Homo sapiens: one gene and its partners. The protein of the gene in region 5 purifies or fractionates together with the protein of the main gene of each other region. This does not show direct contact. Each region holds a gene or a part of one and is shown on either strand. Other genes may lie near its edges. The genes, in order: TMEM63B, EFNA5, RPIA, PLIN3, FLVCR2, PAG1 and PFAS.

Evidence for each region.
Region 1: the proteins of FLVCR2 (region 5) and TMEM63B purify together in Homo sapiens (affinity purification with mass spectrometry; one large-scale study listed by BioGRID and IntAct). This does not show direct contact.
Region 2: the proteins of FLVCR2 (region 5) and EFNA5 purify together in Homo sapiens (affinity purification with mass spectrometry; one large-scale study listed by BioGRID and IntAct). This does not show direct contact.
Region 3: the proteins of FLVCR2 (region 5) and RPIA fractionate together in Homo sapiens (co-fractionation; one large-scale study listed by BioGRID). This does not show direct contact.
Region 4: the proteins of FLVCR2 (region 5) and PLIN3 fractionate together in Homo sapiens (co-fractionation; one large-scale study listed by BioGRID). This does not show direct contact.
Region 6: the proteins of FLVCR2 (region 5) and PAG1 purify together in Homo sapiens (affinity purification with mass spectrometry; one large-scale study listed by BioGRID and IntAct). This does not show direct contact.
Region 7: the proteins of FLVCR2 (region 5) and PFAS fractionate together in Homo sapiens (co-fractionation; one large-scale study listed by BioGRID). This does not show direct contact.

What each region holds. Positions count from the first base shown.
Region 1 is NC_000006.12:44,151,108-44,154,146, reverse strand, and holds part of TMEM63B (mechanosensitive cation channel TMEM63B), read right to left. Parts: intron 2,302-3,039; coding exon 2,139-2,301; intron 1,555-2,138; coding exon 1,449-1,554; intron 472-1,448; coding exon 304-471; exon of another isoform or gene 170-303; intron 75-169; coding exon 1-74. UniProt on the Homo sapiens protein: Mechanosensitive cation channel with low conductance and high activation threshold. Osmosensitive cation channel preferentially activated by hypotonic stress.
Region 2 is NC_000005.10:107,380,938-107,384,437, reverse strand, and holds part of EFNA5 (ephrin-A5 isoform 1 precursor), read left to right. Parts: intron 1-3,061; coding exon 3,062-3,183; 3' UTR 3,184-3,500. UniProt on the Homo sapiens protein: Cell surface GPI-bound ligand for Eph receptors, a family of receptor tyrosine kinases which are crucial for migration, repulsion and adhesion during neuronal, vascular and epithelial development.
Region 3 is NC_000002.12:88,690,221-88,694,472, reverse strand, and holds the start of RPIA (ribose-5-phosphate isomerase), read right to left. Parts: upstream 2,801-4,252; 5' UTR 2,775-2,800; coding exon 2,490-2,774; intron 1-2,489. UniProt on the Homo sapiens protein: Catalyzes the reversible conversion of ribose-5-phosphate to ribulose 5-phosphate and participates in the first step of the non-oxidative branch of the pentose phosphate pathway.
Region 4 is NC_000019.10:4,850,226-4,854,531, forward strand, and holds part of PLIN3 (perilipin-3), read right to left. Parts: intron 2,077-4,306; coding exon 1,791-2,076; intron 1-1,790. UniProt on the Homo sapiens protein: Structural component of lipid droplets, which is required for the formation and maintenance of lipid storage droplets. Required for the transport of mannose 6-phosphate receptors (MPR) from endosomes to the trans-Golgi network.
Region 5 is NC_000014.9:75,637,138-75,641,443, forward strand, and holds part of FLVCR2 (choline/ethanolamine transporter FLVCR2), read left to right. Parts: intron 1-2,214; coding exon 2,215-2,325; intron 2,326-3,817; coding exon 3,818-3,923; intron 3,924-4,044; coding exon 4,045-4,156; intron 4,157-4,306. UniProt on the Homo sapiens protein: Choline uniporter that specifically mediates choline uptake at the blood-brain-barrier. Responsible for the majority of choline uptake across the blood-brain-barrier from the circulation into the brain.
Region 6 is NC_000008.11:80,975,685-80,979,990, forward strand, and holds part of PAG1 (phosphoprotein associated with glycosphingolipid-enriched microdomains 1), read right to left. Parts: intron 1,223-4,306; coding exon 860-1,222; 3' UTR 1-859. UniProt on the Homo sapiens protein: Negatively regulates TCR (T-cell antigen receptor)-mediated signaling in T-cells and FCER1 (high affinity immunoglobulin epsilon receptor)-mediated signaling in mast cells.
Region 7 is NC_000017.11:8,262,413-8,266,718, reverse strand, and holds part of PFAS (phosphoribosylformylglycinamidine synthase), read right to left. Parts: intron 3,800-4,306; coding exon 3,726-3,799; intron 3,611-3,725; coding exon 3,454-3,610; intron 3,145-3,453; coding exon 3,083-3,144; intron 2,945-3,082; coding exon 2,783-2,944; intron 2,508-2,782; coding exon 2,382-2,507; intron 2,250-2,381; coding exon 2,118-2,249; intron 1,825-2,117; coding exon 1,594-1,824; intron 1,432-1,593; coding exon 1,251-1,431; intron 1,164-1,250; coding exon 1,080-1,163; intron 858-1,079; coding exon 702-857; intron 486-701; coding exon 366-485; intron 219-365; coding exon of another isoform or gene 196-218; exon of another isoform or gene 1-195. UniProt on the Homo sapiens protein: Phosphoribosylformylglycinamidine synthase involved in the purines biosynthetic pathway. Catalyzes the ATP-dependent conversion of formylglycinamide ribonucleotide (FGAR) and glutamine to yield formylglycinamidine ribonucleotide (FGAM) and glutamate.

The DNA of each region.
Region 1 (3,039 bases), on a different chromosome or scaffold from region 5:
GACGTGGCAGAGACAGATGACGATGGTGATGACCAGGACCACAAATGTGAACATAGACGTGGGAGCTAGGAACCCTGGTGTTGGGGGGCAAAGAATGGGGTTGCTATCTCCTGTGGGCCTCCCCACCCCAGCTTCTGATACCCTCTGAATGCAGTCCTCACTCTCCCAGGTGCTACAGACTGGCCCCAGCCTCTCCCAGGCCCCTTGCCTGCCACCCCCAGCCATGCGGCTTCTCCTGTGGCCTGCTCTGGCTGGAATCCACTCTGCTCGCCACCCCCCGTTCCCTGGGTAGGGATCCCTCACCCGTGCGCATGGTGGAAAAGAAGAGCAGCCAGAAGAGGCAGAGGATGGGCGCGGCCACCACCTGGTTCACAGCCCCCGAGTGGATCTTCTTGTCCAGCTTGGCCGGCAGGTAGGCGTAGTAGAGATTGTACCTGTCTACCAGGTGCTTCAGCAGCATGTACATGAGCCCTAAGGGAAGCCACATGGGCCCTGACCTCGGAACCAGTGCTGCCGAACCTTTTGTGTGTCTGTCACAGGTTGTTCTGGTCCTGAGAGTGCTGAAGGGTTGGCCCCCTCCTCCTGCCCGGGCCCCAGGACGGGATAGTGCCCCGTGCCCCAGCGTGATCACAGAACTTCAGCTTCCTCCGCTACAACCCCTCATTCTACTCTCCTCATCAGGAATTCTACTATTGGAAATCTAGTCATTTGAATCAACAAGCATCTTCTTAAAACCCGTATCATTTTTCTCTAACCCTGTCCCTAAACAGATACGTATAAATTAAGGGACAAGTTCTATTTCCCCAGAGGCTGAGGGATAGGGAGTTTCTAATGAGGACAAGGAAGTTAGTTTGGGAACTTGGAGCCTTCAATAACCAGGGAGGGTTGGTTAAGGAGTTAGGATGTTATTAGGGAGGAAAGTAGAGGCTACCAGTGGGGGTGATGGTTAAAGAGAAACTTTGCTAAACTTCAAAAAGGAAGAGAGACCTGGCCAAGTCACATAGCTCAGATACAGCAGACTATCTCCATGAGTGGCAAGGACCCATCCCACCCTGGAATCCAAGTCTTTCCTGAGTTTACAGGGTGGTGTAAAAGTGTGCACATGGATGCCTGTGTGGGAGTGTGTGTGTGAACATGTCAGCACGTATGTGATCTGTGTCCAAGCACATCCCGCTGAGGGAAGGCACAGGTGTGGGTAAGTATGGCCATGTTGGTGTGACTTTGCCCTGGGGCCCACATGCCAGCTGGGTCTGGCCTGAGCTGATGGCTCTCCCCCTCCTCCCCACAGGCCAGGCCCCAGACTGAGCCAGGGACCGGGCGGGAGCCCCGAGGGGCCGGTCTCCCAGCCGGGCCCTGTCCACTCGGGGTGGCCTGCATTCCTAGAGTGGAGAGGGTGAAGTCCTGGGTCCCCCCGAGCAGGGCCCAGGTCCCGGCGCGGCGGTGCCTACCGAAGGGCACGATGATGGGGCAGGTGATACTGTAGGTCATGACCACCGTGAAGACGCACATCATCCAGGCGTAGGCTGCGCCAAACTGGAACTCGTAGGCCTGATGCTGGGGGGGAGACGGGCAGGAGGATGGCTCAGGGAGGCAGGGACTGACCAGAGGGGCAGGGAAGGAGGGAGGGGGAAGGGAGCCAGGACCTCTGGGGCCGGAAAAGAAGCCATGGGGAACAGGACCTAATGTCTAGGGTAGGGTAGGGCAGAGCAGATGGAGAGAGGGGCTATGGCCGAGAGGAGGGTCAGGGCGGTTGCAGTGATGGGGCACGGAGAGGGGCCTTCAAGGGTCGGGGCCTGGCAGGTAGGGGGCAAGAGTTGGGTGGACTTGAGAGTGGGATGCCCAGAGCCCTCTTATTAAGACAGAGGGACCCTAGCGCTAGGGACCCAGATCTCCCCAACTCCCATCATAGAATGCTACTGTCAGAACTGGCAGGGGCCTTCAGGGTTACCTATGTCCACCCATGGCAGAATACGAAGGCCCCAGATATGGGAAGGGGATGGCCCGGATCCACCGTGAGTCAACTGTACTCCCCAAGTCTCAGCCCTCCTGTGCCCCTCAACCCTAGCGCGATGGCTGCTGTTTCTTGTTGGGCCACCAGGGGGCGCTGTGCGGGCCGCTGCTGCCCCAGGCGGCCGTACCCGCTTCACGTTGCGCCTCTCGGCGGCCGAGCGCGCCAGGCAGAGCCGGATCATGTACATGAGCAGGCCTGGGATGCGCAGCAGGTCCATGGCGTTGCCGATAAAGGCTGAGGCAATGACGTAGTTCACGAAGAAGGCGCCGTTGTCGGGCAGGAACACACACCTGCGGGCACCAGGTGCTCCAGCACTGCACCCTTGGGGTGACCCGGTGGCCGCCCGCCCACTGCCAGAACTACAGCACCCAACACCTCCACCACCAACATGCTTCTTCCATGTGGACACCCCCAGCTTAGCGCCCCAAGCACCTGTGCCCTGTTCCCCCCAGAGACATACAGAGTGGCAACAGACAGCTCCAAGAACTTGTGCCCCATAAAGACCCATGGAGAGAGTGCTCAAGACCACCTAAGGCTGCTAGAATGTTCAGGGGAGAACTGTCCAGGACCCCCAAAGACAACCCAATGAGACCCTCAAAGAACCCAAAGGCTGACAGCCCCAGGAACACCCAGAAGATTCCCCCACTTAGACCATAACTCGAGTTACCCCCAGAGTGTGACATGAGCCTCAGATACCTCCACAAACAAGCTTTGAGACCCTTCCCGCAACATCTCTGGGGGAGCCCAGGAACCTTTATCAGTGCCTGAGATGCCCCAAGTGTGACTCAAAGATCACCACAGATGGCCTACAGCAAAACCCCTAGAGTTTGTGCCCACAGCCATGGTGCATGACCTTCAATATATCCTCACATGATTCCCAGAGAAGATGCCCATACAGAACTCCACAGTTACATCTCTGAATAAAAGCCTGAAATTTTAGAGATGTTCCCAGAACTTGTACTGCTAAACATCCCAAAGTGTGAGTCCTTTAGCCTCCCCGCCCACAGACACCCCCAGAGTTATAAGGT
Region 2 (3,500 bases), on a different chromosome or scaffold from region 5:
CTTTTTTGTTTGCTTGCACACTCTGCCTGCCAGTTTCCTATCATCAGGGATGCAGGATGATCTCAGGGCAGACATATGCCACATAACATGCTCCAAAATATCGCTAGTGTTCTCTCCGTTAACCATTGAAACCCCCATGTTGTGGAATCCTGTAGCCAGGAGGCAAAACTTGATTTGACTTCTGAAGAGGAACGTTTTCTTTCTTCTTCCAAGCCTGTGTTACAAGCGTTAGAAATTCTCTCATGTTTAGGTGTAGTTTCCATTGGGATAGATTTTACCTATGAATTCCTCCTTAGAATTCTGAAATTGCTCAGATTTACCCAAATGACAGCCAGTTTCTCATTTCACATTTGGGGGCTGTAGAATCTTCCAACATTGAGAACCTGTTTTAATCAAAGGATGCTTTGTGGAATCCTGAATGAGGAACAGCATGTTGCAGGAAGAAGAGAAGGATCCTGATGCCCTAATGGGACTGATTTCCTTTTGGGGGGCAGGAAGATATATATTCGTTGGGTGCTTATAAAAGGTTAATTCCAAAGATTGTGTATGGTTAAAGGACTGAAAGTCACACTTAGCCTCATACTTCACTTAGATGAAAAACAAAAGCCTTCCTCTCCATTACCTTGTAAGATCTATTCCTTGTGTCTTGTGCTGAGTGGACCTGGAATAATGGATAGCCCTCACTGAGTACCTAGAAGGGACTAGGGTGGTGATGAAGGGGTTCACACCGAAGATCTAAGTGCTAGCTGGGTACCTTTAACAGTACACTTGCAAGCTATACAAGGAGAAGGATTGGGTAATATGCTAGTAAAAATAAGATGGAGAGGAATCCAATAGCTGATGCAATTTCAGGTGTTTAAGTATGTGATATTGTGAAATGAACTCTGGAATCCTCAGGGTTTGTGGTTATTTCACAGTTAAGCCTGAAGTGCTCCATTGTTTTGATTGACAACATATTGGTGCTCTTAAGAAAGTGATTTGGATTTTAATTTCAGGGCTATTAAGGGCCTTTACTTCTACTTCCTATTAACTACAGATTTAATTAATACACTTGCAAGGCTGAAAAAGAGCAGAGAATAGAAGAGGGTCTGAAGGTACTTGGCCACATTGTGGAGGACTTTATATATATTTTTTCTGCATCCATTTATCTTACCATCTTGCTTCCTAACCTTTTCTAGTCTCCTAAGCTAAAATCACTCCATGCAGATTCGCTAAGGTCCAGGAAAGGGGAGCACATTTGACAAGGGGATGCAGTAGCTTTTATTCGAGGGGAGGCTAAAATGGTAAGAGCACTCCAGGTCAGGAGACTCAACACTGAGAAGACCTTTCTCATTGGGAATGGATGTGATGGACAAAACCATCCCAAACGAGCATATCTGAAGCAGGGGTCAGCCTGTGAACCTGAAAAGTGGTTACTTTAGGACAAATATTAGCGAGTGTGATTCTACCCAGTGAAGGAAAAGCACCCTTATTGTGACACGTGTGGTAGGAAAATACAAATGAGTTTAAAATAATGGTTAGTTAACCCATTAAGGGGTTTGAGGTGGGTCATCCAGGGGTATTTAGGGATTATCCTTTGAGGTCAGTATAATTGAGAACAACCACTAGAGCCTTGTTACCATTCTGTCTGGCCCTTGAGCAATTCCCAGATGGCAACTGCTGAACACCTGCAGGAAGTTACCCTGATGCTGAGATAAAATTTGCACAGGGGCTCACTATTGGCCCCCAAAATGTGTTATTCAGAGATCCTTAGTCTAAAAGCACAAGTGGCCAGGTATAGTGGCTCATGTCTATAATCCCAATCCTTTGGGAGGCCAAGGGAGGAAGTTGGTTGAGGCTGAGTTTGAGACTAGCCTGGGAAGCAAAGGAAAACCCTGTCTCTCTAAAAATTCTTAAAATTAGCCAGGCATCGTGGTTCACACCTGGAGTCCCAGCTACTCGGGAGGTTGAGGCAGGAGGATTGCTTGAGCCCAGGAGGTCAAGACTATAGTGAGCTATGATTGGGCCACTGTACTCCAGCCTGAGCAACAGAGCAAGACCTTACCTCTAAAAAAATATTAATTAATTTAACTTAATTAAAAGTAAATAAAAGCATAAGTTAGGTCAGGTGGAAAGAAGAAGACAGGCAGCCCTGGAGCAGAGCTTGGCTCCTAGGCAAGCCTCCAACCTCTCTTTGGTACTAATTGCTTCAGAGTTCCCATTTGGAAGTTAAGCCTGTTAATCATGCAGATCAGGAAGGCTATCCAAAGTCAGAGGCAGCCTCATAGAACACTTTATAGCTAAATAAAAGAAGCTTAACTCACTTAATCTATTTTATTTAGAGGAAAATTTGCATCCACGCTGATAATTTATGTGCCAAGCTTCAGCCCGATAAAAATAAAAATAGTCAAGTTCAAGTAATTTAATCTTAGAAATACAGGGTTTGTAATAGAAATAGCACCATAATTGACACCTAATTGCAGGCAAACTAGTGGGCATACGTTTATTGAAGTTTACTAGGCATGATGTATAGTTTATCCAAAATGCTGCTGTTTTGGCATTTAGTTTTTCATGTTTGAAAATTCGTCTAGGCATCCAACAACCAGGCATTCAACACTAATCCTATGAAACAGCTAAAAGAAGGGAAATGGGCAGCGCATTCTGGTTAACCACTACTGTGCCAACATAACTGCCCCTTCCCCCACCCCCACCAACATGTCACTTGCTTGCCTGTGACATCTTAGGTTTCAAAGGTACATTCAGATATCTGAAATTTGTGCAAGGCGTGTCTGACTGCTGGCTAACCAAAGCAGCTCACAGGCCAAAGGTTACGGTGTATGCATAATTTTTCCCCTCAATTTTTAAGGAAAGTATTAATATTGCTGAGAAAGTCCAATTTTCTTTGCCTCTTCTTTGTTTGCTGTAAATAATGAGTGATTATGCAGACATGAAAGTCAATGGTGGCACAAGGTTCATTACCCTACTTTGCAGAGGGTGGCGAGGTCTGTTAACAGCAGGCTGCTGCAAGAGAGTTATTAAGGATGTGAAATCTCATTGGAATGTGTGCTTTCTATTTGAACAGATGACACCGTACATGAGTCAGCCGAGCCATCCCGCGGCGAGAACGCGGCACAAACACCAAGGATACCCAGCCGCCTTTTGGCAATCCTACTGTTCCTCCTGGCGATGCTTTTGACATTATAGCACAGTCTCCTCCCATCACTTGTCACAGAAAACATCAGGGTCTTGGAACACCAGAGATCCACCTAACTGCTCATCCTAAGAAGGGACTTGTTATTGGGTTTTGGCAGATGTCAGATTTTTGTTTTCTTTCTTTCAGCCTGAATTCTAAGCAACAACTTCAGGTTGGGGGCCTAAACTTGTTCCTGCCTCCCTCACCCCACCCCGCCCCACCCCCAGCCCTGGCCCTTGGCTTCTCTCACCCCTCCCAAATTAAATGGACTCCAGATGAAAATGCCAAATTGTCATAGTGACACCAGTGGTTCGTCAGCTCCTGTGCA
Region 3 (4,252 bases), on a different chromosome or scaffold from region 5:
CTCTAGCTTTACAGTAATTCAATCACCAAATTCCTGGTTACCAAGCTTAGCCATACATTCATGTCACTCACAGTCCCCAGCAGGCAGGTGGCACAGAGGTGAATTCGGATGAATCAGACAAGCTCTGTATAAGGCTCGTTCTTTGCCTTTTGAAAGAGACCAGGAATTGCAAGGCCCTGCCAGACCTAAAGCTCTTCACCCATGTGATCCCTGCTGCCTTGGAATCAAATGACTGGCCCAGGAAATCAGTGCCCTTGCCAAAGCCAACCAGAGGTGACCAAAGGCTGCCTATGAGGTGGCCCAACAGCAGAAGACTGCCAAGCAGGCCCTGCTAGAGGAGTGGCCCCATTCTAATGGGCAATATTAAACCACATGTATGTGCAACATCAGAACTTCACTCAGCTTGTCGAATGGAGTAACTTTGGAAATACTACTTCTGCTAACCAACTAGAACCACTGCCCATCAGCTTCCTCAACCAAGCTAGTAAAAAAACAAAGCCCAGGCTCCAAAGAGAACAAAGGGATGAGGCTACAGACATTCAGAAGAGCCTAGTTCTGCATGTCGACCCATCCTGGGTGGCTACACCCACAGAAACAGACAGAGCTGGGCCCAAGGTGGCTATACAAAGGATTCACCTGAGAACTCTCCATGTTTTCCATCCACTCAGACACGGAAGTGGTCACCATATTGGAACTCCAATGGACTAGAGAACAGGAAGCCCTACTCCCCAGAGATTCTACACAAAGAACCTCCAATAACCCCAACACTTTCGTATTTGTGTCCACACTGCACACAATTGAACAAACATGTACTGGGCAGGACCCACTGTGACCAATGCTAAATGAAGGTTAACTACCCTCCAGGAGCTTACCCTTTAAGGGGCTGGAAGAAACGAACACACAGATGACCAAAACATGAGATACAACATAAAGCACATAAGAGGCATGAAGTGCTACAGAATCACGGAAGAGAAATCTTCCTCTCCTTAGGATGCTAAGGAAAAACTGAAAGGAGGAAATGGCCTTTAAGCCAAACCCTGAAGGGCATATATGATTTTAACAGGTGCCCCCAAAAGGTCACTGTAGATCTCCCCAAAATTACCTAACTTCATGAAATGATGTGGTCAGAATCCAGTGTTTTGGGGCTCTAGCCTAAGGTCAGGGCTTGCAGATTTTTATTTAATCAAATACATGACTATAACACAAAGGTCAGGGAGATGCGCCACCAAATATTAATGTAAATTCATTAACAGGACAACTTAGATATGGGGCTTTTCTAATTGTATTCTCATGTGGATTACATTTATCTATTAGCTATTCACTGTATGCAGATATTTTGAAATTTCAGCTTATTGTCTCAATTTTACAACGGAGGCACTGAATCCCAAAGGTAGGGTCAAATTAACACATTTTACATTATCTCTGTTAATCCCCATAGAAAATCCTATTGCCAATCAGACTTACAACAAGCTACACCAGAACAGGGTAGCAGTGGAAAGAGTAGAAGGTCACACTGGAACATCCCTTCTACAGAACTGGCTGAGCCACAGGTTACCACATTGTCCACTCCCACTCAAACAGGCTGTGGTGAAGCTCATCCAACATCATCTAAGCAAAATAATTTTGTAAAGCATTAACAAATGTAAAGAACTATTATCGGAGAAGAAAAGAGACTCTAATACCACTTTCTAATAAGTAGAAACGAGAGATAAAAAGCCAATAAGACCAAGGAAACTACACCACAGGGCAGACATACTCCACTTGGCTTCCTTATTATAATTAAGATACTTGATTGGTGACAGCAAAACCACTTGGATTAAAAAAACTCCACTAACAGCACCACACCTGCCACTTAACAAACAAGTAGGGACCACGACCTGACTGAATAACAGCTAAACATCTCTGCAGACCCGCCTTAAAAAATAAACCAGCATCCTCCAGACTTAGTCCACCCAGCCCTATGGAAAGAAGGAAGTTTGAAGCCCCGGGTCTTCCCTTCCCTCCAAGAGTACACTCAGGGGCCGGCGCGCACCAAGCCCAGAACCTCCTTCGACTGAAATTTCAAAGCACTAGCAAACCAACTCTCCGCCGGCTTCCGGGTCAGTAAAGAGAAATGAAAACCTCTCCGCAGCCCCAAAGCCCACCATTTTCCATTTATTGATAAGGAGGCCACAAGGCAAGTGCCTCTAGCCCCCATTCCAAACATCAGACAGCACCAGGCTCCACTTTGCAAACTGTTCCAGCTGGACAAGGAGTCTTTAGAAAGCTCAAGTATTAGAAGATTCGCCCCCAACCGATTCCACATCTAAAAGGTCTTTAAGGAGCAGGGAAGAGGGGTCTAAACTCGGGTAAAGTGCACACCCTCTACCCTCTCACTCAGCTCCCGCCCTGCCAGGAGCTAGGCGCGCCCCGGCAGCACCCACAACGCGCAACAGTAGCCCATCACGCCAAGGACATGCGCCCCGCGCCCCACGTTTCGAAGTGCTCACCCTCACGTGGTTCTCCACAGCCGCGCGGCCCGCCAGCTTCTTGGCCTCCTCGGCCTTGGACATCGTGGAGGGGGCCGGGCAGATGCTGTTGGAGTCCCCGCAGCTGGTGCTTGTGTTGCCAGCACCGCCACGGGTCCCAGACTGTGCACGCCCCGGCAGCCGCACGTGGGAACCCGGGAGGTCCCAGCTGTTCCCTCCTCCGCCGGAGGCCGCGCCCCCGGCCCTCCCGGGCAGCGGGGCCAAGACCCGCCCGTAGAGGGTGCTGAAGGGCCCGGGGCGCTGCATCCCGACGCCTCGCTCCGGCCTCCGCTGAAGTCCCGCCCCCGGCTCCCCCGGAAATCTGGTCGCTTACGCACACAGTCTGCGTGCCCTGCTGCGCGGGTCTTGCTGGGAAATGTAGTTCTGTGGCTTCGAGGAACCCCTATCTGCGCCTCAGTCTGGACTACCAATCCCATAATGCTCTCCGCGACGGAATGCGCAATCGCCGGCGACGGGCTCCGGCACTTCGCTCTGTGAAGTACCATTAGCCGCGGGAATATCAGTATGGTGACTCCTTACCCTGGGGAAGTGTACTTAGGCCACGGCTAGGTGAAGCCCAGGGATATTTCTGTTCGCCCATGCATCCGAGAAAGGAGTGTTAGACCTGACCCTGTTGTTTCTCCCAGCAGTGAGAACGTGGCCATGGACAAGAATTCCAAGTAGTGGCACTTCTGTAGACGACGCGGCCCTTTTGGGGTTACTACAGCCCAGGAAACTCACATGCGACACGGCGCCAGCTGAAGTCCATCTAGACCCCCGCAGACCCAAGGTCACAAGTTGAGAACCCCCTGCCGTGGACATTCTTCTGCACCTAGTGGTGAAGCAGGTGGAGCTGCACCTTGCTCCGCCCATTTGGAGACTGGTTCTGCACATATGAGTGTGCCCTGCAGCGATCCTGCAATCCTTCGTGACTAACAAGGACTTTCTGTGAAAACAGATTTATCTTTTCTTCTCTACCTTTAAGGTTTCTTGCTGTTGAGAATAGTTAAGGGACGAGGAATTCTTATTGCCCCCATTTTACAGGCAAAGAAACTAATGCTGACCCCAACCTTACCGACCACTTGGAGGTCCCTAAAAACACATGACCTTTGTGTTTCTCGGCTGTTAGTGGAATCCTTTCTGTCTGCTCATGAACTCATCTTCAAACGCATTCCAGGCCTTCAGAACTCTTCCGTGAGCGCAAGTCACTGGTATGGGCCACTGTTAACTGCCGGTTATCACCTAGATTTTCTTAACTATGCTTTGCCCTCTGAGGCCGTGAGCTCTTGAATCTTCACCTTAGTCTGTAGGAGGAAAAGTTGTTTGAGATGATATTTGAATCCTTCATTTTAGGCCAAATTCAGAACATAGCAAAAGGTTCTGGCTAACATGCAGAACAGTATGTCTGGACTCCCACTACTGTTGGTCTGCAAAGTTGAAGGCTACTCTAGGCAAATATGTCACCTTTAATGTATCTCCTTAGGAGGAGTCTTTCACCTTATTCATGCTCCTCAGCACCCACACCAAAAGATTCATGAAGTAAATGTTACCTAGTCTCTGCTTTACCCCATTACCCCCGGCCTGAGGACCTTTGAACCATTTTAAATGCTCTACCTGCCAGCCTGGCCATCTGTGCATTGCTTGCTCCATCCACCCTTCTGACTCAGCTGAAATACCACCTTCCCAAAGAAGTCTAAGTGACCACCTCATCTAAATTGGGTTTCCTGCCCACCCCTCCTCTATCA
Region 4 (4,306 bases), on a different chromosome or scaffold from region 5:
GAGCCACTGCGCCCAGCTGCATGTATTTATTTAATCCTGCTCCTACTGTACCCATGCTTTTTTTTTTTTGAGATGGAGTCTCACTCTGTCGCCCAGGCTGGAGTGCAGCGGCCCAATCTTGGCTCACTGCAACCTCTGCCTCCCAAGTAGCTGGGATTACAGACGCCTGCCACCGCACCTGGCTAATGTTTATTTTATTATTATTATTTTTTTGAGACGGCGTCTAGCTCTATTGCCCAGGCTGGAGTGGAGTGGCATGATCTCGGCTCACTGCAAGCTCCGCCTCCCAGGTTCATGCCATTCTCCTGCCTCAGTCTCCCGAGTAGCTGGGACTACAGGCACCCGCCACCACGCCCGGCTAATTTTTTTTTTTTTTTTTTTTTTTTTTTTAGTAGAGATGGGGTTTCACTGTGTTAGCCAGGATGGTCTCGATCTCCTGAACCTGTGATCCGCCCGGCCTTGGCCTCCCAAAGTGCTGGGATTACAGGCGTGACCCACCGTGCCCGGCCTAATTTTTGTATTTTTAGTAGAGACCGGGTTTCACCATGTTGGCCAGGCTTGTCTCAAACTCTTGACTTCAGGTGATCTGCCCACCTCGGCCCACCAAAGTGCTGGGATTACAGGCTGAGCCACCGCGCCCTGCCTATATCCTAAGCTACTTATTTGCAAAAATCCCAATCCCCGCACTTTGGGGGGCTAAAGCAGTAGGATCACTCCAGCCAAGGAGTTCTGGATCAGCTGGGATGACAGAGGGAGACCCCGTCTTTACCAAAAATTAAATAAAGAAAAATTAGTTGGGCGTGATGGTGTGTGCTTGTAGTCCCAGCTACTCGGAGGCTGAGATGGGAGGCTCGCCTCAACCCAGGAGTTGGAGGCTGCATTGAGCTATGATCGCACCACTGCACTTCAGCCTGGGCAAGAGAGTGAGACTCTATCTCTAAAACAAATAAATAAAAAAGGGCCGGGCATGGTGGCTCACACCTGTAATCCCAGTACTTGGGGAGGCCGAGGTGGGCAGATCACAAGGTCAGGAGTTCGAGACCAGCCTGGCCAACATAGTGAAACCCCGTTTCTACTAAAAATACAAAAAATTAGCTGTGTGGTGGCAGGTGCCTGTAATCCCAGCTACTCAGGAGGATGAGGCAGGAGACTCGCTTGAACCCAGGAGGCAGAGGTTGCAGTGAGCTGAGATCACGCCATTGCACTCCAGCCTAGGTGACAGGGCGAGACTCTGTCTCTAAATAAATAAATAAATTAATTAAAGAAGAATATCAAATAAACAGTGCAGGGAGTGCGAATATGTGACCGAGATGACTGGAGTGGGATGTCTGGCCTGGCGGGAACACCAGCATTGTTGTCACAGTTCAGTGAGATCTCAAGTTTAGTCACGTATTTATGCAGGAGCGGAGTGGCGAAGGGGGAAGAGGAGGAGGGCGGGGAGAGGACAGGGGAGGTTGTGCAGGACCTTGTGGGCTGTGACGAGGACTTGGGCTTTGACCCCAGGGGAGGTGGGGTCCATGGAGGGCTGTGGGCAGAGGGACGGGTTCTGACTCAGGTGGTCACAGGCGCCCTCTGGTGGCTGCTGTGGGGAGGAGACTGTGGTGGATGAGGGCGGGAGCTGGTGAGCAGGACAGAGGGGACTGCGTTAGTGATGAGATTCCAAGATGCCCGGGAGAAGTGGCAGGGACGAGGCGGCAGTGAGTGTCGGCACAGACCCCAGGAGGCCGACAGCGGCTTCCGGTCAGGGGGCCTGGGGAGGGGTCCCAGAGCAGCCCGCTGGCCACACTTACCCAGTTCGGCATCCGTAAGGGGCAGGTGGTTGTCCGCCCACTCCTCCGACTTCCCCAGCACCGTGTCGACCCCACTCAACACCATCTGGCCCAAGCGGGAGCCCATGACCGATTGGACGCCGCCGGTCACTACGGACTTTGTCTTGTCCACGCCGCTCTGCACAGCACCGCGGGTCGCGTCCACCGCCTCCGACAATTGGGTGGCCACCGTGTCCTTGGCGCTAGACACCATCTCTTGGGCCCCCGACACCTTAGACGACACAAGCTCCTTGGTGTCCGCCAGGACCTAGGAGATGCAACAGCATCAGCATCTCTGCCTTCCCTCCATATCTGGGCACCCCTCCCCTGCACCCCAACTTCCAGGGAGACCGAGGCGGGGAGCGCCATCCCCCGGGTGACCCCAGCATCTCCGTCTTCCCTCTGTATGTGGGCACCCCTCCCCTGCACCCCAACTTCCAGGGAGACTGAGGCAGGGAGCGCCATCCCCCAGGTGACCCTGAGTCTGGAGTTGTGGGCATGACCTCATACTCTGCAGCCAGACTACCTAGGCTCCGTTCCTAGCTAGCTACTTCTCAGCTGTGTGGCTTCAGGAAAGTCACTCTACCTCCCTGTACCTCATTTCTTTCTTTCTTTTTTTTTTTTGGAGACAGGGTCTTGCTCTCTTGCCCAGGCTGGAGTGCAGTGACACCATCTCAGATCACTGCAACCTCTGTCTCCCGGGTTCAAGCAGTTCTCCTGCCTCAGCCTCCGAAGCAGCTGGGATTACAGGTGCCCGCCACCATGCCTGGCTAATTGTTTTTTGTTGTTGCTGTTGTTGAGATGGAGTTTCACTCTCGTTGCCCAGGCTGGAGTGCAATTGTGTGATCTCGGCTCACTGTAACCTCCGCCTCCTGGGTTCAAGCGATTCTCCTGCCTCAGCCTCCCGAGTAGCTGGGATTACAGGCATGCGCCACCACGCCAGGCTAATTTTGTATTTTTAGTAGAGATGGGGTTTCACCATGTTGGTCAGGCTGGTCTCAAACTCCTGACCTAGTGATCCGCCCACCTCAGCCTCCCAAAGTGCTAGGATTACAGGCATGAGCCACTGCACTCTGCCTGTTTTTTGTTTTTTTTTTTCAATTTAATTTTTTTTCTTTTGAGATGGAGTCTCCCTCTGTCACCCAGGTGGAGTGCGGTGGCACAATCTCGGCTCACTACAAACTCCACCTCCTGGGCTCAAGTGAGCCTCCCACCTCAGCTTCCCCAGCGAGTAGCTGTGACCACAGGCACGTACCACCACTCGTGGCTATTTTTTATCTTTTATTTTTATTTATTTATTAATTTTTTTGAGGCGGAGTTTCACTCTTGTTGCCCAGGCTAGAGTGCAATGGTGCAATCTCGATTCACTGCAACCTCTGCCACGTGGGTTCAGGTGATTCTCCTGCCTCAGCCTCCCAAGTAGCTGGGATTACAAGCACATGCCACCATGCCGAGCCGATTTTTGTATTTTTAGTAGAGACGGGTTTCACCATGTTGGCCAGGCTGGTCTTGAACTCCTGACATCAGGGGATCCACTTGCCTGGGCCTCCCAAAGTGCTGGGATTACAAGCATGAGCCACTGCGCCCAGCCTTATTTTTTATTTTTTGTAGAGACAAAAAATACAAAAAATTAGCCGGGTGCAGTGGTGCATGTCTGTAATCCTTACTACTCAAGAGGCTGAGGCGGGAGAATCCCTTGAACCCGGGAGGTGGAGTTTGCAGTGAGCCGAGACTGCACCACTGCACTCCACCCTGGGTGACAGAGAGAGACTCTGTCTCCAAAAAAAAACAAAAACAAACAAACAAAAAAAAGCTTTGCATGGAATCCTTTGACTACGCCCCACCCAGCACATGGTGAGCGCTCATCTGTCAATACCTGCTGTTCTCGAATCTAAGTCTTTTTTTTTTTTTTCTTTTGAGACAGGGTCTCACTGTGTCACTCAGGCTGGAGTGCAGTGGTGCAATCATAGCTTACTCAAGCCTTGACCTCTTCGGCTCCAGCGATCCTCCCACCTCAGCCTCCCAAGTAGCTGAGACTACAGGTACGCACCACCACACCCGGCTTATTTTTTTATTTTTTGTAGAGACAAGGACTCTCCATGTTGCCCAGGCTGGTTTCGAACTCCTGGCCTCAAGCAGTCCTCCTGCTTTGGCCTCCCAAAGTGCTGGGATGACCGACATGAGCCACTGTGTCCAGCTGAAGCTAAGTCTTTAGACAGATCTCTATGCAGAGGGCTCTCCGCAAAGTTGAAAACCACACCTGCCCCATTCCTACCCAAGTTGGTGCTTCCCTGAAGACTCAGTCCTCTTGTACTCATGAGAGTTCATCTTTTTGTGGGGGAAGAGGGTGTGAGAGTCAAGTTTTTTGTTTTTGTTTTTGTTTTTTTTTACAGAGTTTTTGCTCTTGTCACCCAGGCTGGAGTGCAGTGGCACTATCTCGGCTCACCGCAACCTCCACCTCCCAGGTTCAAGCGGTTCTCCTGCCTCAGCCTCCCCAG
Region 5 (4,306 bases):
CAGGTTTCAAATCCAGCTTTGAGTTCACATCTCAGCTCTGCATTTATTCAGCTGGTGACTTTGGACAAGTAACTTGAGTGGCCTGAGCTTCAGTTTCTTCATTGGTAAAATGAGAAATCATCAGATATTTCTTACAGGATTTTTGTAAAGGTTGAATTGAAATAATAAATGCATGTGAAGTGCTTCACAGAATCTGGCACTCAAGAGATGGAGGGTTTCGTTTGACACAACCGTAGCGTGCCATTTGGTGCCTCCACCATGATTCTGGCTTCAGGGGTGATGTGTAAAGAAAAGCTTTAAAGATTTTGGCCAGGTGCGGTGGCTCACGCCTGTAATCCCAGCACTTTGGGAGGCGGAGGCGGGCAGATCATGAGGTCAGGAGATCGAGACCACCCTGGCTAACACAGTGAAACCCTGTCTCTACTAAACAAACTACAAAAAACATTAGCCAGGCGTGGTGGCGGGCCCCTGTAGTCCCAGCTGCTTGGGAGGCTGAGGCAGGAGAATGGTGAACCTGGGAGGCGGAGCTTGCAGTGAGCAGAGATCGTGCCACTGCACTCCAGCCTGGGTGACAGAGCAAGACTCCATCTCAAAAAAAAAAAAAAAAAGAAAGAAAAGAAAAGCTTTAAAGCTTTCATCATCTGAGTCCTGATGTTCATGGTAGGGGGGCAGAGGGATGTGCAGTGCCTATGCCCTGCCTTAGGTAGTGCAGGGAGAAGAATGCAGGTCGAATTGCAGGAGTCGGGGCTGCATCAGAGTCCTAGGTGGGCAACATGGGAAGAGAACTGCTGGAGGGGCACAGGAGGGGGTGAGACTGAAATAGAAACCAAGACTTGCTGATGGTACTCCTGAGGGGATCGACACAGGGAAATGTAACAGGGAGTGGGCGAAGATAGAGAAGGTTTCTCACATTGGCTTTGGAAGTCAAGCACTCAGTTCAGGCTGAGAGAATATTCTCTCTTAGTTCCTGCTCTCTGGAGTGGAGTAGTTCAGACTCAACAGAAAAAGCTTTGCTGGGCCAGGCGCAGTGGCTCACACCTCTAATTAGAACACTTTGGGAGGCCAAGGCGGGCAGATCACCTGAGGTCAGGAGTTTGAGACCAGCCTGGCCAACATGGCGAAACCCCATCTCTACTAGAAATACAAAAAATTAGCCACGTATGGTGGCGCATGCCTGTAATCTCAGCTACTTGGGAGGCTGAGGCAGAAGAATCGCTTGAACCCGGGAGGCAGAGGTTGCAGTGAGCTGAGATCACGCCACTGCACCCCAGCCTGTGCGACAAGAGCGAAACTCCATCTCAAAAAAAGGACAAAAGAAAAAAAAGAAAAGAAAAAGCTTTGCTGGGTCTGTTGGTCTGTTCAAGTAGGGACAGGAAGAACTTGTAGGTGACAGAGCACATTGCCCAGCATTGTCATGGGTCTTGGGATAAAGCAGACAAGCAGAATTGGACAGCTTCTGGGGTAGTCCTGAATGTCACCGCCACCTCATCATGGCTGATGTTTGTCCTGTTTTTTCTTTTTTCTGGTGAGGGATGGGAGAAGGAGAAAGGGCTTTGCCCTTCTTGTCTGTGGCTAGGACATGACAAGTCAAGGGGCAGATTGATATTGTTGAGTGGGTTCTACAGAAAGGGAACAAAGATATCGTAAGATGGCTTCATACTTTACTAGTCTTACTTACCCTTTGTAGCATTGATCATGATGTAATTAAATAATTTTTTTGTGTGATCATCATCTGTCAGTGTCCATCACCCTCATGGAGAGAAAGTTCTATGAAAGAAAATGTCCAAGAACAAGGCCAGGCCTTGGCTTTGTAAGGCCTGTAATCCCAGCACTTTAGCAGGCCAAGGCAGGTGGAGCACTTGAGGTCAGGAGTTCGATACCAGCCTGGCCAACACGGCAAAACACCGTCTCTATGAAAAATACAAAAATTAGCCAGGCGTGATGCGCACAACTGTCCCAGCTACTCAGCAGGCTGAGGCACAAGAATTGCTGGAGCCCAGGAGGTAGAGGTTTCAGCGAGCTGTGATCACGCCACTGCACTCCAGCCTGGGCAACAGAGCAAGACACTGTCTCTGAAAACAAAACAAAACTCCAAGAACATAGCAGAGGGCTTGACATGCGGCAGATACTTAATAGATGCTTGTGGAATAAATGAATGAATGAGCCTATTAAAGTCAGAAGTGTTTGATTCAATTTCTTTGCCTCTACTTGTAGAGAGACAACCCTGGTAGTCTATATCATGACACTGGTGGGCATGGTGGTGTACACGTTTACCTTGAACCTGGGACACCTGTGGGTAGTGTTCATCACTGCTGGCACAATGGGGTAAGTTTCACCTCTGGCTGATTTATTAGAAAATACCATGCCATGGCTCCCAGAGCTTCCAGCATCCTAGAATGCAATATTGATGCCTTTGCTGCCTTCTAACTGACCTCAGGAGATATGGACATGGTGCCCAGGGGTCTCGGTAATACTTGTAGTACTTCCAAAGGCAGCCTGGGCTGTCTGTTCTTTTGGGATGGAATGAAGCATGAAGCACACCCTTCGCGACCTCTTGGAGGCTAGAACCTGTTCAGAGTCTTTTTCAGTTTTGCCTGGACAACATGGGATTGTGGAAAGTACACAGGGCTTGGAACCAGAGACTCTGGGTCCTGGTCTCAGTTTTGCTGCTGCCTACCTGTTAGACCATGGGCACAGCACTTAACCATTCTGAGCCTCAATTTCCTCATCTGTAAAGAAAGATAATAGTGGCCTGCCTTGTCAAGTTGTTGGACAGATTGAGAAAGATAATAGATATGAAAGCATCAAGAAGCATTGTGAAAATGTAAGAAATTAAAGTTGCCGGGTGCGGTGGCTTAACGCCTGTAATCCCAGCACTTTGGGAGTCCAAGGCAGGCAGATCACAAGGTCAGGAGTTCAAGACCAGCCTGGCCAATATGGTGATACCGCGTCTCTACTAAAAAATACAAAAATCAGCCAGGCATGGTGGCACACACCTGTAGTCCCAGCTACTTGGGAGGCTGAGGCAGGAGAATCGCTGGCACCTGGGAGGCGGAAGTTGCAGTGAGCCAAGATCGAACTACTGCACTCCAGCCTGGGAGACAGAGTGAGACTCCGTCTCAAAAAAAAAAAAAAAAAAAGGAGAAATTAAAGTTGGAATTTTCTAGACCTGTTGTATGAGAAAACATAGGAAACAATACCTCTTTCACAGGAGTCTTTGTTCAGCTCTGCTTCCCAGTTATTTTCCTATGGGCAGTATATGAGTGTTTGTGTGTGTGTGTGTGTGTGTGTGTGTGTCTGTATGTGCATGTGAAAGAGAGAAAGAGGGAGAGAGCATGTGCTGGCACTCAGTCCTCAGCTGGTTCCTCTCTGGATGGAAATAAGGAGGACTCTAAGCTCCTCCTTCCAGGTCCCAGAGAGCCACGGAGATCCTGCTCAATATCCAGGAAGTTCCCACTCCCAGCACAGGGCCTGTGTACCCAGGACATAGTCTCTCAGCTGAAGGTTGAACACACCAGGCATCCTTGCCCCTTCTGTAAATGCTGACTGGCTGTCACTGATGGCAAGATGGAGAAGCAGCAAGGGATCCCAGAGGCCTGCTGAGCACAAGGTCTCCCTGTGAACTTCTTCCTGGCCTTCAGGGGTGCCCGTCTCCTTGGTATGATCACATAGAGGATGCCCAGATCATTAGAGGGCCTAGTATGTCTTGGTGGGAAGAAACAAAACAGCAAAGGGAGTCCTAGGGGAGGAGGTGGGCTCCCCATCCTTCTTGTTCTGGAAGTTCTTCATCCCCTTGTTTCTCTGGTCTGGTCTTCAGCTTCTTTATGACTGGCTATCTCCCACTGGGATTTGAGTTTGCTGTGGAGCTCACGTACCCAGAATCAGAAGGCATCTCCTCCGGCCTCCTCAACATATCTGCACAGGTAGAGCTCGTATTTCCTGTTTGTTTCCTGGCTGGGAAGGCATTGCATCATGGCAGCTCAGTTCTTCCTCATGAGTTAGTTGACTGGGCCCTTGTTTCCTATCTTCTTTATGCCTTTCCAGGTATTTGGGATCATCTTTACCATCTCCCAGGGCCAGATTATTGACAACTATGGAACCAAGCCTGGGAACATCTTCCTGTGTGTGTTCCTTACTCTTGGAGCAGCCCTCACTGGTGAGTTGGAGCCTGAGGGCAAGATGAGGCTCAGGTTGGCCATTTGGGACCCTAGTGTCTCGATGGAGCAACAGATAGGGAGTACGTACGTAGGGGGACAGATGGAAGGGTTTGTTGGGGAATCTGTTGGGAGGCAGCACATTGTTTTGG
Region 6 (4,306 bases), on a different chromosome or scaffold from region 5:
AAGGAATGAGTTCTGGGCTTAAACAAGTCTAGAAGTACCACAATACTCATGGAAAATACTGAAAAGATTCGGACGAGTTTTCAAACACTGGGGGAAACACGTTTTTGACTAGAAAAATAAAATAAAGCATCTAAAACTGACTTCAAGTACTTTGGGGAGAGGCTGCTGATATCGAATGCCAAAATAAGAAGGAACAAAGACAGAAGAGACTCCAGGGACGTCCCTCCCCATCCCTTCACCCGCAGGGTCCAGATCCCCAGGTGCTGATGCGCAACTCTTTGGGGAGGACTGGCGAGCTGGGCAGAAAGCAGCAGCCATGGTTTGTCACCATCCTAAAACACCTATATTGAGGGCAAAGGCCAAGCTTTGTGTGAAAATTTCCTTGGGATGAACCACAGGAATCTGGACATTTCAAGGGGGAAAAAGCCTTAAAGTCAGTAGCAGACAGAGAAAAGGAAAGAGAGGAAGAAAAACCTGCTTTTCTGAATGGCAGTACTTTAGGCCGGGGGCATTGTGGTCCTTGGTGAGTGCAGCTTTTCCATACAGCTTGGCTTTCCTCACTAATGAGATGAGACCACTGACAGCTGGGATCTTTTGTGGGTGGTGAGGGTGCAGCAGGGAGATGTGCTTGGGTGTACCTGTCCATCTGGCAGGCAGGGGCACACTCAGGTGCAGCCTAGTCCGTACCTCTCTGTCTCAGAAACTGAACAACTGGGAGAACAGTCGACAGGGCCTCTCCAACCATCTTCAGGTGACTAAAGCAGCATATGAAGTATAGGTTTGTGTCACTTCTTCTCTTCCACAGAAGAAACGTCTCCAGACACTGATCACAGGCTACCCAGGGTTGTCTTCTGGGTTGCTAGAGCCTGGTAATATCTCTGCCTTGCTGCAAGTCACTTATGCTCTCGTAGTCGTTCTCCTTTGGGACGAGACCGTGGTGGCCATTGGTCCCCAGGGTGGCCTTTTCTTCCTCTCTGTTGAGAGTCTGTATCGCTTCATAATCAGGCTCTGGCTCCTCGCTGGGCCTCCCTGCTGGTGGAAGTGTGCTGTTTGGAGTTTTTTCGAAGTCTTTAACAGTAGCATAGAGATCATTACAGGAGGAGGGTGACCTCTGTGGGTCCCCTTGAATGGAGGTGTAGGTGGACTCCGGAACTGTAAGCGACTGCCCCGATTTATTCACTAACTGTCCAGGTTTATTTACTGATGAGTACATAGCTGAGATCTAGGAGACAAAGGGAGAGTTGAATAAACTTCCAGCTGTGACTTCCCCCTCCCTCTTTTTAGTGACAAGCTACATACTGAGCACTCCTGGGTTTCTGTGTGTGTACTCCTTAAAGATTTGTTCTTTCTTATCTGTACTAATTATGGAGCACATTACTAGAGAATAATTACACACACTATCTTCAACTATGTTAACTAGATCAGTCATATTCCCTTAATTCCGTGAAAACCCAGTTCTCTTGGGTCTGCCGAGGAATTTGAGGAGAGGTGGAGTGGGAAGCTCCTGAAGGCCCCGGGGACCTGACCACAGCATGTGTTTTATTTCATTTCTTTATCAGAATGATATTTTGCCTGAAAAGGGGCTCCACTGCTTTACAAAAAAGGACAGAAAACACATAGTAGACCGGTGATTCTCAAAGTGTGGGCTGTAAACCAGCAGCAACAGGATCTGGGAATTTGTCAGAAAGGCAAGTTCTCAGGCCTCATCCCAGAACCACCAAATCAGAACCTCGGGGCTGGGGCCCAGCAACCGGTGCTGATTCTGATGGCCAGTAAAGTATAAGAACTCTGAATTAGACTACTCCATGCTTCCTGCATCACAGTGGTCTCCAACACCCGTTGCTGGATTCTCGTTGGTGGTACACATATATCTGAAAGGGTATTCCTGTCCATTATTTCTTGACTTAGTTGCGTATTACTGGTTAAACAGACATTGACAGTCCAGGTCTAGTTTTCTTCAGTGGGAAAACTCATTCTCGCTTGCAACCAGCCAAGTCAGAAATGACAACTTACAGGATACTATTAAGAGCCAGTGGCTTTCCAAGCACACCCCCACAGTCTCACTAATAAATCCTGTATCACCTCCGATATCAACAGGGATTTCATTCATTGTGAAGATTAAATATACTAATTAGGAGACTTTTGGGGAGTATTATTTTATTGTGAAAAATCACGGTTGGAAATAAGTAAAAATACCCTTCATTACCTGTGTTTATTTTTATCACAGTGATTTGATTCATTCAAATACCCAGGAAATACATGAACATGCTTCCTCACAGATGCCTGGCTTCCCAAGGGCTGAGGGACATTTTCCTGCTTCCACTTTTCTCACATACTGCAGGTGAAGTTTCCAGCTTCTTAAGACAGGCCTGTCTTAAGACAGGCCTTCTTATGTCTCAAAAGCTTCTTAAGACAGGCCTGCCACATGCTAACTGGTCATTTGCATGAGAACTTTTCATTACAGGCTGGTGGCTGGCTCAGTTTGGTGAGGCCTTGACAATCCAAGGGTTTACAGTTCAGAAAAACAGTCTTTGGAAAACTCTTACTATGTTGATCTGACTATCCTAATGAATATGAAATGATTAACATTCTCACCTTAGAGGTTTTAATGAAAAAACTGCTCTCAGAATACAAGAATTATAATTTCTTTGAATTTAATAAAAAAAATTCACTGCTGTTTATAAGGAAGTGCAAACACAGAATGTATTATCTAAATGGTGGTCCAAGCCAAAAATTATATGTGGACAGATTATAAAAAGGTAAACAATGGATGACAATGGTGAGGGGAGACGGCATACCAGCGTATTCATCACCTGGTAACATCAAGGAGGACAAATGTACCTTGACCTAGATTGTAACAATGAGAGTCAGCCCCTCACCACCGTTAGCTTCTCTCCTCAGCTTTCTTCCCCCTGGTCTTTGTAATTAATGCCCCTCACTCTTTGTAAGAGTACTTGGTCTTCTTGGCCTTTGTCCTCATTCATTAACTTGCAATTTAATATTGACTCTGGGAATGAACCTAGTGTGCAGAGGGTCTCACTGTACATTTCAACTTTTATAAAAGCTTCTTGAGTCTTCTCATATTCCTTTTGACTGTTTTCTATGACCATTATGACTATTATTTTTATTTTGTATACAGGTTTCTCTTCCAGCCCCCTTGCTATTTAGCTTCTCAATTTTTCTCTTTAAAACTTTCATCATTATTCCTCAGTCTGTAAATTGTTGCTATATTCCCATAAGTTACTCTCTTCCTTTTCCCCATTTCTCTTCTTTTTCTAATCAATCCTTTCCATAACATTCTGTTAAATTGGGGTAATAGAACTTAAAGCTCAGATCTCAGCTTCAGTCTGGACTGTTTAACATTAAATTACATAAATACAAAAAAAACTTTCATATTTATTTTTCCTCTTTGTCCTAAAATGAATGTCTGTGAGTCATAGTTCTGTCATGTTAAAAATTCATCAGTATAACTAGGTCCTGTTTCAAAAAATACAAACAAATGTAAGATAAGGAGCAATTTAAAATTTTACATAGTCTTTAATTCCCAGAACTCCTATATATTTTACCTTCTTGTCCCAGATGGGATCACTTTGGCTGCAGAGTAGAAAACAGAGTGGAGGGAGGCCAAGGAGCTGCCAGGGATCAGCAGGAGGGGACTGCTCTGGCCTAGGGAGGGGCGGCCGCAGTGGGCTTGAGGGAGGTGGGTACACAAAGAAAACAGTTTGGAGGTGCAACTGATGGGTCTTGGCAATTGACTGTGTTGGAGGACAGTGAGGAAAAGGAAGTATCGAGATGACCCCTAGGTTTTGGTCTGTGCAACCAGATAGACAGATGGCAGGTCCATTCTGGAGGTAGAAACATGGACGAGGGTGGGCAATATCACCTAGGGAAAGCATTTTTGCTCTTTGAACATTCAACGTGGGTGTCTATGTCCATATTCTAATGCTTTACTCAGAGTCCTATAGGAAGTGATGTACCTGCATATGTACTTTGCTCTTGTACATGTACACAATTTACTCTGCTAGGAATTCCAGATAGAAGCTATATACAGCTAGATCAATTAAGGTGTTTAGCTCTCTGAGCATAGCTCAACATTTATATATATACATATGAAATATGTATATATACACATATTTCATATTATATGTATAATACTGGCTTTAACAATTTTAATGCTTCATTGAAAATCTAACTCGTGAATTTTGCACCCTGGTGCTTGGGAATATGCGATCTGCTCTTGTTGGCTGCTATGTCTGACCCTAGCTCCTGCCTGGAACTGTACTTACTGAAGTTAATCTGCTCTCAG
Region 7 (4,306 bases), on a different chromosome or scaffold from region 5:
AGAAGGGCCAAGGGAGTTGGGGCGGGATCAGGGAAATGCAGGAAGGGCCAGGGTGAGGGTCAGAGGGATGCAGCCAGAGAGTAGGGTAGGGATCAGGGAGGATGAGGGCTAGGACGGCAGGACTGAGGATGTTTCATCATGGACATCTCAGGGATGGGAAGTCTCAGAGGGGTGCAGTCAGGAACATGGTGGGTGTCAGCCAGTTCCATCCAGTTCAGCTGTCAGAGAGACAGCACAGAAAAGCTAGTCAGGGAAGACTCAGGGAAAGGGGACTGGAGGGCACTCCACTCTTTAATATATTGGAAATGGGGTCTGCAGGGTAGAGAAGGCAGCCCGGGCCTGAGACTAGACCCCAGGTTCCTTACCATCAACCCTGGGGACAGGCACATCCACCTGTAGCCCGCAATTTCCAGCAAAGGCCATCTCCAGCAGGCATGTGACGAGGCCTCCGTCACTGACATCGTGGCCTGAGCAGAGGAGGCGGTCTGGAGGAAGGAGAAGAAAGCTCAGCAACCTCGGGACCCAAACCTGACAGCCCCACCCCACCTTCCGGAGTCAGTCCATCAAGAGTGTGTGTCAGAATGTCAGGGGATCTGGGGTACATCGTCCATTGGAGTCCCTTTTGCCCCACTGCTCAGATGGTGAACGCCTGCTGCACGCCTGGCACCCTGTGCGCTATCTCCCCAGGGGTCTTCACTCACCTTTCAGCAGCCCCTGAGTGATGCTGAAGGCCCGCACCAAGTTCTCAGGAAGGTCCAGGTCTGGAGGGTGTTCCCCAAGCTGGGAGAAGCACTGGGCCAGAGCTGTGCCCCCGAGCCGGTGCTGCCCAGGGCTCAGAGCCACATAGAGCAGATGGCCTGGGGAGACGGGGAGGGGTGAGGGGAGGGGAACAGCTCAGGAGGACCCATCCCTGAGGGGCTCACAGCACTGCTATTCCCAGCATGTGGTGAGACACCTAGACAATCAGTCCCAGAAAACACCACAGCCCAGTGTTGAGATGGGGGCCCAGCACTCACAAAGCAGGAGCCAAACAAAGATCACACAAGCAAAGATCACAAAGGATGGGGCCATGTCCATACCTCTCCCTTCAGGATGCTTGAGGTCTGGGGTCACAGTGGCTGTGATGTCTGGGCAGACGGCATAGGCTGAGATGACCAGTGACCCTGTAGAGCAAGGAGGAGTCCAAAGGAATGAGTTGCCAACCCAGCTCCATAGTTCCTCCTCCCCTCCCTGGGGCTCCCACACCTCACCAGGAGCCCGCACGGTCTCAGTGCCAACCCGAGCAGCCATGCTGAGGGAGTCCTTGCCACCATCCACTGCCACACCCAGGGCTGCCATCACTGCCACCATAGCCTCACAGGCATCCGCCAAAGCTGCGCCCTCCCCTGGGAGCTTGGCTGCCCACATCCAGTTCCCGCTACACTTCACATCCTGGGGGTGGCAGAGGCACAGCATTAGAGGGGAAGAGAAATGTGGAGAGGCCAGGGGTGCAGGCGGACTGGGAGGTTGCAACATGAAATGAAGGGCTACAGATGGATGTGGAAGGGTCCTGAAGCCCGGGGGCTCCAGGATAGAAGCTGTGGGAGAACTCACCCGGAGGTCAGTGACCAGAGCAAACACCAGGTTGGTGAGGGCTTCGGCCACGGCCAGCCGGGCGGCGACTTTTGGGTCCAGCAGGCTCTTGACTGGCTGTTCTCCCAAGGCTGTGGCAGCCCCTATGAGCTCCTCATGGCTCAGTGCCACAACCGCTACATCTGCCAGAGGAGTTTGCAGGGGCCCCACGCACTGCTGCTGGGCCACCAGGCCTCCCACAGAGCGGTCCACCTGTGGAACCAGGTGGGGTTAGCAAGAGAGCAAGGGACAGGGACAGCCTGAGCTCCCGCACATGCCCCCAAGGCACTCAGGGCAGTGGGAGGCCTGTCTTTCCCCCAATGCAGACAACAGCTCTACTTAGAAGGTGGGTAGCAGGGAGACCAGGCCATCAGGGTGGCTGCCCTGCCCCTGCTGCTTCCTGCAGGGCCAGGCAAAAACCCCCACAGCACTTTCTAAGGGTGGGAGGGCAGAAGAGGCTGAGCGGAGGAAGGAGGCAGGGGGCAGAGGAAGGGTGCAGGGAGGACCTTATTGGTGAGGTAGCGCTTGCTGGCCACGGCGGGCAGCCTCAGAACCCTCTCCAGAGCCTGGTGCACGCTCAGCCCTGGGGGCAAGGCCAGAGGCTGCAGCATGGGGGGCTTCCTCTGCAGGAAGAACTCCTGCAACACAGACAGCGACAGGCAGTGTGAACACCTGGGGCGGGCTGGGCACACAGGCGACAAAGTGCACGTAGGGTAAAGGGTGGTGTGGAGAGGACCACAGGAAAAACCCATCCCCTCAACCCCACATACCTTCCGAGGCATCTTGCCCAGCACCCATTCGAGCTCCAGGTCCACAGGGGTTGGCAGGGGTGTCGGGGGGGCATCCCCCTGGCCATTTCTTCTGACAGGACACTCCCGATCGTCCACCAGCACTATCTATAGACCACAGGGACCCCACCCAGAGGGGATGAGACTATGAACACCAGCAAGGAATGTTCCTAGAAATCAGGGCACAAATGTGCTTTCCACTCCTTGTTTGGTTTCCATATTGAGTCCCTGCCCCTCCTTGGATCCAACATTCCCCACAGCTTGTTTGCCACTACCTCCCATCTTCCTCTCGTCTCTCTCCCTTGACAGCTCTCCCTCTAGCCCATACCCAGGTGGCTCATGTCTGCCCCAGTGTTTGCTCCCAACTCCCTGGGCCAACTCACTCTCCGGTCTCCAGTGATGGTGCCCACGAAGCAAGCCGGGCAACGTTCACGGGCACTGACATGAGTCAGGAAGTCCCGGTTGGGGGACCTCAGCAGAAGAGCATTTGATTCCTGGTACTCAGCCCCCCAGATTTCCAGGGCATTCAGGGTTGGGTCCCCAAGCTGCACAGCCACGGCGGGGAGGAAAGAGAAGGGCCAGTGGGCACTCCCACGTCTCATGTTGTTGCAAGAGAGATGGGTGGAAGCGGGCTGGGGCTGGCAGGGGTGGGAAAATGTCACACTTCAGGGGACGAGACCCACCTGGAAGCGGCTGGTGTAAATGATGGCTCCAGCTGGGTCACTCAGCTCTTTTAGGACATTGCCTGGTGAGAGGGTTGCAAGGAGAAGCAGTGACCTAGTGGTGGTCAGGCAACAAAGGGCAGTCCCTGGCCTCCAAAGGGGCCTGTAATTTGGTGTGTTCCTGTGTCAACTGCTGCCGCACCCTTACCACCAATCATCCCACGGCAGCAGGCTTCCACCCTTCCAACCCTGAACCTGTCTAGAATGTACAGAGCATGGAGAATGGGACCCAGAGCTGGGTGGTTGGTTGGAGATTCCTGATACCTCTCCCTAAACGAAACCTGGCAGGATACCAGGCAGGCCCAGTCTCTTGTTCCAACTCCTTTCCTCACCATTGCCACCAGCGCCCTGATCATGAAGGCTGCAGATGGGGTTTCCCTTGGGGGCCTCCACACAAGCCCTGATCACACGGTTCATCTTCTGTTCCATCTCCGGGTCTCCTCGCTGCACAGCCCCAAAGTCCAGGTCACTGGTGTTATCTCCCTGCACCTGGGGGCATATATGGCATAGCTCAGCTCAGCGAGACTGGAAGCTCCTATACGCTCCCCTATGCCTGGGGCCCGGTTATATCAAGGATTCTGCACCTTTAGCAATTCCCACTCACCTGCACAGATGAAGCAGCTCCACCTCCAACTCCAATCCTGTAGACGGGACCTCCAACCTTTACAACTTCCATGCCTGTAAGAAGGGAAGGCAGAATCAGAACACTGGGGAAGCCACGAGAAGAGGCCTCGAAAGCAAGGCAGCGTGAACACAGAGGAAGCTGATGTTAGGGAGAAGCCTGACCAGCTTTTTTTTTTTTGAGATGGAGTCTCGCTCTGTTGTCCAGGCTGAAGTACAGTGGTGTGATCTCAGCTCACTGCAACCTCCGTCTCCTGGGTTCAAGCGATATTCCTGCCTCAGCCTCCTGAGTAGCTGGGACTACAGGCGCCTGCTATCGTGCCCGGCTAATTTTTGTATTTTTTCAGTAGAGACAGGGTTTCACCATCTTGGCCAGGCTGGTCTCAAACTCCTGACCTCAGGTGATCCGCCCACCTCGGCCTCCCAAAGTGTTGGGATTACAGTCGTGAGCCACCCTGCCTAGCCCAGAAGCCTTACCACTTGACTGGGTTGATAGGAGAGTAAACTGATATCAACTACGGAGGACGATTTGGCAATAACAACCAAAATGACAAATGCACACAG